Homo sapiens: one gene and its partner. The protein of the gene in region 1 interacts with the protein of each later gene in a pairwise test. Each region holds a gene or a part of one and is shown in the gene's direction. Other genes may lie near its edges.

Region 1 (7,037 bases):
CTTGAACACTAGGACCACTAAGGGAAAGGGAACCCAGAAGCCTGGGATGCTGGCAAAAGGGTAAGAATGTATTACCAGTCAGATTTCTGGCTTCTCTCTCACTGTACAAATGGTTAAGTGAATGGTTAAAAAAAAAAAAATCAGCCTGGCACGGTGGCTCAGGCCTGTAATCCCAGCACTTTGGGAGGCTGAGGCTGGTGGATCCCCTGAGGTCAGGAGTTTGAGACCAGCCGTGGCCAACATGGTGAAACCCTATCTCTACTAAAAATACAAAAAATTAGCTGGGTGTGGTGGCGTGCGCCTGTAGTCCCAGCTACTTGGGAGGCTGAGGCAGGATAATCACTTGAACCCGGGAGGCGGAGGTTGCAGTGAGCCGAGATCGTGCCACTGCACTCCAGCCTGGCAACAGAGCGAGACTCCATGTCCATCTCAAAAAAAGAAAAAAAAGAACACCTGTAAGCTCGCTTTTCAAGATGACCCAGCAAGCTGGTCAGTAAGATACTTGGCTGCAGGTCCCTGTAACAAATAAAAGACTGGATGAAGTCTCCACCTTGTTTTACGTCCTTGGGAGCTTGACCTTTTAACCATGTGGTGGTACTTTCTTTTGGTCCCCACCTTCAGAGAACAGGAATTTCAGGATTCATGTCATAGTTAGCTCTAAAAATAATATTAAATAGTTAAAAGCCCTTATAAGCTCAAAATTAACTACTCTAGACTCCTTCTGGGAAGGTCAACAGAGACTGCCCTGTGCTGTAGCTCAGTAGCTAAGCTTTTGCACTTTCTTTTTTTTTTTTTTTGAGATGGAGTCTTGCTCTGTCGCCCAGGCTGGAGTGCAGTGGTGCGATCTCAGCTCACTGCAACCTCCGCCTCCCGAGTTCAAGTGATTTGCCTGCGTCATCTTCCCAAGTAGCTGGGATTACAGGTGTGTGCCACTACGCCCAGCTAATTTTTGTATTTTTAGTAGAGATGGGGTTTCATCATATTGGGCAGGCTGGTCTCGAACTCCTGACCTCAGGTGATCCACCTGCCTCAGCCTCCTAAACTGATGGGATTACAGGCATGAGCCACCGCACCCAGCCAGCTTTTGCACTTCCGTGGCAACAGTCCAGGTTCAATTACCCACCTAGGAAGTAAGTCGTTTCTGGTTTAATATCTGCATGACTTTGTCTATTCTCTTCTCCTCTGTGAACTGTCTTATATTTTCCTTTTTCTAAGCACCTGGGAGGTTACCTTTGATAAAATTCAAAAGCCAGAAATACCAGCCGTTTGGCATAAAAACTTCTAAAAGGACTTTATTAAAGAGTGCTATGGTTAAAATAAGTTTAATTAAAAGTGGATATTCAAGCTCTAACAGCCTGGACTCCTTGGGAAAAACAAGAGGCACCAGAGACCCCTTTCGTGGCCCTGTTCTTCCAAGGGCTCCACCCTGAAGCCGGTAATCCAATTAAGAAACTTAAAAACTGGCAAATGAAAAATCTTACAACCACTGTTATCATCATCATCTGTCTTTCTGTGTAGCTATATAGGTGTCGTGTGTAATATTTATATAAAAGAGCTCTGATTAATCAGCTTAAACAAAAATAAACATTTAAATCAAATATTTTGAAAGCAAAATAACTAATGCCTTTTAGTTCATGTAACTTTAGTAATCTTTAGGAAATAAACACATCTTTAAAATTGATAAAAATGTTAATCTTAATTATGCAGGTCAGATATTAAGTTTGTTAAATGATTTGAGGTCATAAACTGTTTCTTTGACTTTTAAAAATTGTTCAATTTACCCTACCTTAAAGCCATTAGATTCTAGATAAGGCCTGGGGACATGTGGAGTTAGCCACGCCCCTAAGCTGTGCTGGAGAGTCAGCTCTTATCTGCACTTCTGCCTGGTGTGTCCTAGGCTAGGCTCCACACCTAGTACATAATTAAAATTGCTTACTAACCAGGGTTTTCACCAAAAGTAAAAGTCGCTAAAAGTTAAAATTGGAACATGTAACTGAGACTATTGAAGAGACAGTTTTACATGTAAGGTGTGTAGTAAGGAAAATAGAATGTACTTTTGGTAAAAGATTATAAGAAGGCATGGAAATGTGGGGTTTTTTGGCTAAAGAGTTAAATAATTATTCTAAGTTGGCCGGGCACAGTGGCTCAAACCTGTAATCCCAGCACTTAGGGAGGTCGAGGCAGATGGATCACCTGAGGTTAGGAGTTTGAGACCAGTCTGGCCAACATGGTGAAACCCCATCTCTATCAAAAAATACAAAAGTTAGCCGGGCATGGTGGCGCACACCTGTAGTCACAGCTACTCGAGGCTGAGGCAGGAGAAGCGCTTGAACCTGGGAGGGGGAGGTTGCAGTGATCTGAGATTGCACCACTGCACTCTATCCAGCCTGGGTGACAGAGCGAGACTCCATCTCAAAAAAAAAAAAAATTCATACAGGAAGCATTATCAAATGTCAAATGGTGTTTTGCTTTCTTTGGATTATATTTACATAACTGTATTATTGGTATATGTTCCAAAGTTATGGGAAACTCCTATAATTCTAATATGATTTAGTGTATGTTATTAATAATTATAATTGTTATGCAAAATATTGTGTGCCACAGAAGTAACCAAATTTCCTTATCATTTCTGGCTTTAATAGTGGCTCTCCTAAAACTTTTTATCATCCACAGACAATTGTTGTCTTGTTTTAATCCTGTTTAGAAGATGATTTATAATCAGCTATAGAACTCTAGCAGGTGTTCTTAAATGCAGGTTTCTAATAACTTTGGAAATTGTAACATTAGAATAGAGGAAACAACTTTCAGAACTCATGAAGAGCTAGAATGTTCATGAATATCAAATGAAACATGAGTTAATTGAATCAACTGAACCAATAGAAAACTGAAGTAATCTTTGATTAAAATGTTGCTGATCCTTTGTTTTGTTTTTCAGAGTCAAGGAAACTTTTCATTTGAGCTATTTACAGTTCATAGCAATTGAGTAAAGTATACTGCTGTGAACGAAATTTGGAACATATTTGTTTCTCTATATCAGATTTCTCCAGAATTTGGAAACTAGTTGTGAGTATTCTTAACTTATGGCAATGTAATTATTTGCATAAGTGCAATAAGAATCTGTTTTCTTTTGTAACAGAATACAATTGGAGAAAGTGGTTATTTTACCAAGGCTTTGACTGAAATGGTGTGCTTTTCTTTAAGGAATCAAACTTGACTTGTAGAGCCAATAAAAGCCCTTTGGGGAACTGGCCTCATACCTTGCCTACACAGTGCCTGTACAGGGTTTCTGACCTATGGTAAGTAAAGAATGTCACTTTCTCACCTGTCCAGGAGCCCCAAGTTATCTTGGGACCTCAAAAGGAGAGAAATTTACCCAAGTTATAGGTATTTAAGGGTACAAACCCATGTCAGGGCTTGGCTTTTAAAAAAGTCTTATCTGAGATTCCTTATGAAACAGAGTTCCATCAAAGCCAATTAAAAAGCCTATGTGAAAAATTATTATTCTTGCTGCACTTTATACAAACAATCAGGCCAAGTATAATAAAGCAAGTCAGTCTTACCATAATTTGTCTTTAGTAAAAATGGGAAACTGGAGAGAGAAATACTATGTTTCAAAAACTATGGTACACTTGTTATTAAATTCTGGTCTCATTAATTGTTTTTAAGTTTGTTTCTGCAATTTAGGCTAACCCTGCGTATTCTTGTAAACCAACCAGTAATCTCTAATTGTTGCTCAGAAGAAATAAGAGGGATGGGTAATTTAAAAATCTGGATCAGTATTCTGATTCTGGGCACATTACAATCAGCTAACAACCCGATATCAGCTTAGTTCCAGTGGTTGCCTGGTTCATGAAAAGTCTTCTAATTTAGTTTATTTGGAATAACTTTACTTATTTTGCTTTACTCTTTTTTTTTTCTTTCTTTCTTTTTGAGACAGAGTCTTGTTCTGTCGCCCAGGCTGGACTGCAGTGACACCATCTTGGCTCACTGCAGCCTCCGCCTCCTGGGTTCAAGTGATTCTCCTGCCTCAGCCTCCCAAGTAGCTAGAATTACAGGCACACATCACAACGCCCAGCTGACTTTTATATTTTTAGTAGAGATAGGGTTTCACCATGTTGGCCAGGCTGGCCTCGAACTCCTGACCTCAGGTAATCCACCTGCCTCGGCCTCCCAAAGTGCTGGATTACAGGTGTGAGCCACTGTACCCAGCCTATTTTGCTTTACTCTTGTGGAATATATTGCTGTTATACTTTTTGTGTAGGAATACAGGACAAGCTTACTGAACGTTTTCTTACTAATTTTCCAGATACCACCTTTTGTTGAAACTTGAGTTATGAATGAACCTTACCATACTGATGCTTTCTGACTGAGCTCCTTTTTACCCTGAATGCAAGAGACCCTCATAGGCAGGCAGGAATATCATTGCCCTATTTAGCCTGAAGAAGTTATAGAAGATGGATCTTCGTCCCTCTGCAACCCTTAGGATTAAGGGTTCTCTTAGACGGGGGGAAATGTCAGAGGCGTATGAACCAGAGCAACTCCATCTTAAACAGGCTGGGTAAAATGAGGCTAAAACCTACTGGCCTGCATTCCCAGATGATTAAGGCATTCTAAGTCACGGGATGAGATAGGAGGTCAGCACAAAATACAGGTCATAAAGACCTTGATGATAAAACAGTTGCAGTAAAGGAGCCGGCCAAAACCCACCAAAACCAAAATGGCCACGAGAGTGACCTCTGGTCGTCGTCACTGCTGTGCTCCCACCAGCGCCATGACAGTTCACAAATGCCATGGCAAAGTCAGGAAGTTACCCTGTATGGTTTAAAAAGGGGAGGCATGAAAAATCCACCCCTTGTTTAGCATATCATCGACAAATAACCATAAAAATGGACAACCAGCAGCCCTCGGGGCTGCTCTGTCTATGGAGTAGCCGTTCTTTTATTCCTTTACTTTCTTAATAAACTTGCTTTTACTTCACACTGTGGACTTGACCCATTATTTCTTGTGCGAGATCCAAGAACCCTCTGTTGGGGTCTGGATTGGGACCCTGTCCTGTAACAATAGCGTCTCACTGTGTTGCTCAGATTGGTCTCAAACTCCTGGGCTCAAGCGATCCTATCGCTTAAGGGTACAAAGTGTCTCCCAAAGTGCTGGGATTACAGGAATGAGCCATCGCACTTGGCTATATTTTTGCAAGTTTTGTTGTGCCTGAATTGCTCCATTCCTTTTTTTTTTTTTTTTTTCTTTTTTGAGATGGAGTTTCACTGTTGTTGCCCAGGCTGGAGTGCAATGGCATGGTCTCGGCTCACCGCAACCTACGCCTCCTGGATTTAAGCGATTCTCCTTCCTCAGCCTCCCAAGTAGCTGGGATTATAGGCATGTGCCACCACCCCTGGCTAATTTTGTAGTTTTAGTAGAGACCGAGTTTCACCATGTTGGTCAGGTTGGTCTCGAACTCCTGACCTCAAGTGATCCACCCACCTCGGCCTCCCAAAGTTCTGGGATTACAGGTGTGACCCACTGTGCCTGGCCAAGTTGTCCCATTTCTAAAGCTGGGGTGAGGTAACTGTCTAAATATATTTTTCTCTCTCTCTCTCTCTCTTTTATTTTAAGAGACGGGTGTCTCACTTTGTTACCCAGGCTGGAGTGCGCCTAGCCTTTTTTTTTCCCTTCAACTTTTAAGTTCCAGGGTACATGCACAGGATGTGCAGGTTTACTGCATAGGTAAACATGTGCCATGATGGTTTGCTGCACAGAACAACCCATCACCTAGGTATTAAGCGCAGCATCCATTAGCTGTTCTTCCTGATGCTCTCCCTTCCCCCACCGCACCCTCCTCCACAGGCCCCAGTGTGTGTTGTTCTCCCACCATGTGTCCCCGTGTTCTCACCATTCAGCTCCTACTTATAAGTGAGAACATGCAGTGTTTGATGTTCTGTTCCTTTGTTAGTTTGCTGAGGATAACAGCTTCCAGCTCCATCCATGACCCTGCAGAGGACATTATCTCTTTCCTTTTTATGGCTGCATAGTATTCCATGATATATATGTACATGTTCTTTATCCAGTCTCTCATTGATGGGCATATGGGTTGATTGCATGTCTTTGCTATTGTGAATAGTGCTGCAGTGAACATATGTGGGCATGTATCTTTATAATAGAATGATTTATATTCCTTTGGGTATATACCAATAATGGTATTGCTGGGTCAAATGGTATTTCTACCTGTAGGTCTTTGAGAAATTGCTGCACTGTCTTCCACAATGGTTGAACTAATTTACACTCCCACCAACAACGTAAAAGCATTCCTTATTCTCCAAACCTCGCCAACTGTTGACTTTTTAATTGCCATTCTTTTTTTTTTTTTTTTTTTTTTCGAGACAAAGTCTCATTCTATTGCCCAGGTTAGAGTGCAGTGGCACAATCTTGGCTCACTACAACCTCCGCCTCCTGGGCAGCCTCCCAAGTAGCTGGGACCACAGTCACCCACGATGCCAGCTATTTTTTTTTTTCTTGAGACTGAGTCTTGCTCTCTTGCCCACGTTGGAGTGCAGTGGTGCAATTTCTGTTCACTGCATCGTTTCCGCCTCCTGGGTTCAGGCGATTCTCCTGCCTCAGCCTTCCAAGTAGCTGGGACTACAGGTGCCCACCACCACGCCTGGCTAATTTTTGTATTTTTAGTAGAAATGGGGTTTTGCCATATTGGCCAGGCTGGTCTCAAGCTCCTGACCTCAAGTGATCTGCCCGCCTCGATCTCCCAAAGCGCTAGGATTACAGGTGTGAGTCACCATGCCAGGCCGGTAATCGCCATTTGACTGACGTGAGATGGTATCTCATTGCGGTTTTGATTTACATTTCTCTAATGATCAGTAATGTTGAGCTTAAAAAGCTCTTAGTTTATTGCCTAACATATAATGTTTCTTTCTTTGCAAGTTTTCTTTTCTTTTTTCTTTTTTTGGAGATGGAGTTTCACTCTTGTTGCCCAGGCTGGAGTGCATTGGCACTATCTCAGCTCACTGCAACCTTTGCTTCCTGGGTTC
Region 2 (5,325 bases), on another chromosome or scaffold:
GTGGAGAAAATAACCAGAATAATAGTCTGCAAGGGATCATATGATGTTTAAAAACTAAAAGTGGAAAAAAGTAGTGGCCAAGAGTATAGTGGAGATTTGAAAGGTGCCTTGGGAAAGGTCAGTGCAATTGTCTTCTTTAACTGGGATATCTTCCTCTTTACTTCTCCACTCATTTTACTTTAGCAGGAGGACTTTGCTGAATGGCAGAGTGCAGACTTCAACAGAGGAAAGAATCCATTCAATATGTAAAGGAAACTGGGTTTTCATATTAGAGGACAAAACCTAAATGCAAATTAGAGGAAATAGTATTGTTGGCCGGGCGTGGTGGCTCATGCCTGTAATCCCAGCACTTTGGGAGTCCGAGGCAGGCAAATCACCTGAGATCAGGAGTTCAAGACCAGCCTGACCAACATGGTAAAATCCCGTCTCTACTAAAAATACAAAAAAATTAGCTGGGCGTGGTGGCGCGTAACTGTAACCCCAGCTACTCAGGAGGCTGAGGCAGGAGAGTCGCTTGAGCCTGGGAAGCAGAGGCTGCAGTGCACCAAGATTGCACCACTGCACTCTAGCCTGGGCAGCAGAGCGAGACTCTTATCAAAAAAAAAAAAGGAAATAATATTGTTTAAATGATAAATAGGAAGATTCCTTCTCTGCAACATCACTGCTGACTGTGACACACTCCTTGCCTTCATTTCCTATTAAAGTTTCATTACCAAAAAACAAACAGAAACTTGATATTAATAATCACAAATTTCTCTGAGTTACGACTAGCTGTTCCCTTAACTATGTTGGCTCAGTTTAATGGGCAAAAACCTGGCATGAAACATTATTCTTTATGATCCTGAAATTATTACATAATTCCTTTCATTCCCTGGAAAAGACAAAAGAAGCTGGCAGGCTTTTCCAATTGATAAAAGTAAACTTCATTTTATTAGTCATTATGAAACTAGGCGTAAGAAGGAGATAGTGGCATCATGTAAGAACATTACATCTTTTTTTTTTTTTTTTTTTGAGACGAAGTCTCGCTCTTGTCCCCCAGGCTGGAGTGCAATGGCGCGATCTTGGCTCACTGCAACCTCCGCCTCCTGGGTTCCTGGGTTCAAGCGATTCTCCTGCCTCAGCCTCCCGAGTAGCTGGGATTACAGGCGCCTGTCACCACACCCGACTAATTTTTGTATTTTTAGTAGAGACGGGGTTTCACCATGTTAGCCAGGCTGGTCTCGAACTCCTGACCTCAGGTGATCCGCCCACCTCGGCCTCCCAAAGTGCTGGGATTACAGGCATGAGCCACCACACCTGGCTCATTACATCTTTTTAGTAGGGTAGAATAAAGTGCCACTGTGTGCAGATCGTGCTGATGGAACTGTTGTACCATGTCTATTTAACGAAAAATATTACTGACTGGAACATTAGGCAGAGAATCAGTGTCTAGAAACACAGTTAAATTCAAAAGCCCCCATGCAATGATTGCTACTGGAACATAACATGGATTTTATTATCTCGAGCTAAGGCAACTGTCAGGCCAAATTTGTAGTGTAAGTATTTCATCAATGGAAGAGGAAACTAATGAATGATTCTATTTTTGAGTTGTTATATTTTACTTGAAACTAATTCATATAAATGAAAGAAATTTTTTTCTGTAACTATATTCTCTTGGTTTAAAAGAATTTCATTTCAAGAATGCACTATACTTTTAAAAACCCCCTTTGAATAGTAAGTGTTTTTTTGTTTTGTGTGGGGTTTTTTTTTTTTTTTTTTTTTTTTTGACAGAGTCTTGCTCTGTCACCAGGCTGGAGTGCAGTGGCGTGATCTCAGCTCACTGCAATCTCTGCCTCCCAGGTTCAAGCAATTCTCCTGCCTCAGCCTCCCGAGTAGCTGGGATTACAGGCACACACCACCACACCCAGCTAATTTTTGTATTTTTTAGTAGAGATGGGGTTTCACCATGTTGGCCAGGATGGTCTCGATCTCCTGACCTTGTGATCTGCCCGCTTCGGCCTACCAAAGTGCTGGGATTACAAGTGTGAGCCACCGTGCCCCGCCTAGTAACTGTTTTTTAGTTCAAAGCTACTATGTAACTGAAACCTGAAATCTATTTTGACAGAATTTTCAAGATCACAAAAAGCATTTTGGATACTTCAATCTTGAATGTTTGATAGAACAAATTCAAAGGAATCAGAAAAAAAAATTCTAATCTCTTAAACTCAGATGCTTGTAAAGAGATGGCTTGATGGAGAAGAATCCTTTTCATTTAGTTGCAGTGAGTCACCTGGTGGAATTTGCTGGGATATAAGCCTACCAGGCAGTCAAGGATGTGATGGGCAGGTTTATGTCCACGTTAAGGTGTAGATTAAAACCAACAGCTCCGTTGTTAATGTGGCTTTTACTTTAGTTTTTGTAGAAGAAGTTTGTCTCCATTTGTATTTTATTCCATATAGGAGTGCAGAACTTTTTTTTTACTCACGTTAAAGTTTACTTGGTAAAGTCCCTTTTAAGAGGTGAGCATATCTGCTTGGCAGTGATGTAAATATTAGGTAACATTATTTAGAAGCACCACGGTATGCATGTACTGTTTAGAAACTTACCAACCAGAGGCTATCTGTCATTTCCTTCCTGTAATTGCCCACACCCAACTATTTCTCCATTTCGCCTCATTAAATACAGCCTTCCTCTACTTCTCTCTGGGCAGAGGTTATTTTATTTTTCCCTCACTTTCCTGGATCACATATTCTCTTACTGATAGGCCTCATTAGGGATTTGTCCTTTACAGCTTTATAGTTTAGGTATTTGGGAACTTATTTCCTTTTTGAAAATGCTAACTTGTTGAAAGAAAGAACTGTGGCCATGCCTCATCTGTGCTTGTATGCCCTAAATGCTTAGCATATTTCCTTGTACATAATTTGTAATAAACATTTATCCAGTGAATAACTGGTTTTTTTTTTATTCATGTATTGCAGATAACGAAGGAGGCCCAACTTCATTCAATAAGGAGCCTGACGGATTTATCCCAGACGGTAGAACAAAAGGAAGAATATTGATGGATTTTAAACCAGAGTTTTTAAAGAGCTTGAGAATACGGGGAAATTAATTTGTTCTCCTACACACATAGATAGGGTAAGGTTGTTTCTGATGCAGCTGAGAAAAATGCAGACCGTCAAAAAGGAGCAGGCGTCTCTTGATGCCAGTAGCAATGTGGACAAGATGATGGTCCTTAATTCTGCTTTAACGGAAGTGTCAGAAGACTCCACAACAGGTGAGGAGCTGCTTCTCAGTGAAGGAAGTGTGGGGAAGAACAAATCTTCTGCATGTCGGAGGAAACGGGAATTCATTCCTGATGAAAAGAAAGATGCTATGTATTGGGAAAAAAGGCGGAAAAATAATGAAGCTGCCAAAAGATCTCGTGAGAAGCGTCGACTGAATGACCTGGTTTTAGAGAACAAACTAATTGCACTGGGAGAAGAAAACGCCACTTTAAAAGCTGAGCTGCTTTCACTAAAATTAAAGTTTGGTTTAATTAGCTCCACAGCATATGCTCAAGAGATTCAGAAACTCAGTAATTCTACAGCTGTGTACTTTCAAGATTACCAGACTTCCAAATCCAATGTGAGTTCATTTGTGGACGAGCACGAACCCTCGATGGTGTCAAGTAGTTGTATTTCTGTCATTAAACACTCTCCACAAAGCTCGCTGTCCGATGTTTCAGAAGTGTCCTCAGTAGAACACACGCAGGAGAGCTCTGTGCAGGGAAGCTGCAGAAGTCCTGAAAACAAGTTCCAGATTATCAAGCAAGAGCCGATGGAATTAGAGAGCTACACAAGGGAGCCAAGAGATGACCGAGGCTCTTACACAGCGTCCATCTATCAAAACTATATGGGGAATTCTTTCTCTGGGTACTCACACTCTCCCCCACTACTGCAAGTCAACCGATCCTCCAGCAACTCCCCGAGAACGTCGGAAACTGATGATGGTGTGGTAGGAAAGTCATCTGATGGAGAAGACGAGCAACAGGTCCCCAAGGGCCCCATCCATTCTCCAGTTGAACTCAAGCATGTGCATGCAACTGTGGTTAAAGTTCCAGAAGTGAATTCCTCTGCCTTGCCACACAAGCTCCGGATCAAAGCCAAAGCCATGCAGATCAAAGTAGAAGCCTTTGATAATGAATTTGAGGCCACGCAAAAACTTTCCTCACCTATTGACATGACATCTAAAAGACATTTCGAACTCGAAAAGCATAGTGCCCCAAGTATGGTACATTCTTCTCTTACTCCTTTCTCAGTGCAAGTGACTAACATTCAAGATTGGTCTCTCAAATCGGAGCACTGGCATCAAAAAGAACTGAGTGGCAAAACTCAGAATAGTTTCAAAACTGGAGTTGTTGAAATGAAAGACAGTGGCTACAAAGTTTCTGACCCAGAGAACTTGTATTTGAAGCAGGGGATAGCAAACTTATCTGCAGAGGTTGTCTCACTCAAGAGACTTATAGCCACACAACCAATCTCTGCTTCAGACTCTGGGTAAATTACTACTGAGTAAGAGCTGGGCATTTAGAAAGATGTCATTTGCAATAGAGCAGTCCATTTTGTATTATGCTGAATTTTCACTGGACCTGTGATGTCATTTCACTGTGATGTGCACATGTTGTCTGTTTGGTGTCTTTTTGTGCACAGATTATGATGAAGATTAGATTGTGTTATCACTCTGCCTGTGTATAGTCAGATAGTCCATGCGAAGGCTGTATATATTGAACATTATTTTTGTTGTTCTATTATAAAGTGTGTAAGTTACCAGTTTCAATAAAGGATTGGTGACAAACACAGAACTCCTGCTCCATTGCATTTGATTTGATGGAGAAGAAAAGTCAATTTAAGTTATAAAAATAAATATTAAGATATTTTACATTTTATATGAGAGAGTTTTCTCCCCTGAATAAGAGAAAACTGAAGTGCTAAGTTCAGCAAATAATTTGTTTTTCCAGGCTTCTAAAGAAAGAAAAATAACAGTGAATTTTCTTGCATTTGAGACTAATTCACTAAATTACTTTATATTATATATTTTTCTGTAAGATTATGTTTTCTCTATAATTTTCTTAAGTATAAAAATACAAGTTGTTTGGTAACAGCCTCTTCTTAGTTATCTACCCTTTAAGTATGACACATGGATGTGGATAGTTGAGTCACTGATGCATTTTATTAAAGTCTGTTTTAAAAGAGCAGATAAAGACTGAGGATGAGGCATTTTTATGTTATTATAAGTCTTAACAGTTCTAGAGTATAACAATCTAGGGAACTAAGCTAAACACTGTTTAGTTTCTAAAATTTCAAAGAA

Evidence for each region.
Region 2: the proteins of ATF1 (region 1) and NFIL3 interact in binary tests that used the Homo sapiens proteins (3 or more experiments, as listed by UniProt).

What each region holds. Positions count from the first base shown.
Region 1 is NC_000012.12:50,767,094-50,774,130, forward strand, and holds part of ATF1 (cyclic AMP-dependent transcription factor ATF-1), read left to right. Parts: exon of another isoform or gene 1-60; intron 61-6,355; exon of another isoform or gene 6,356-7,037.
Region 2 is NC_000009.12:91,408,539-91,413,863, reverse strand, and holds the end of NFIL3 (nuclear factor interleukin-3-regulated protein), read left to right. Parts: intron 1-2,683; exon of another isoform or gene 2,684-2,861; intron 2,862-2,957; 5' UTR 2,958-3,129; coding exon 3,130-4,518; 3' UTR 4,519-4,819; downstream 4,820-5,325.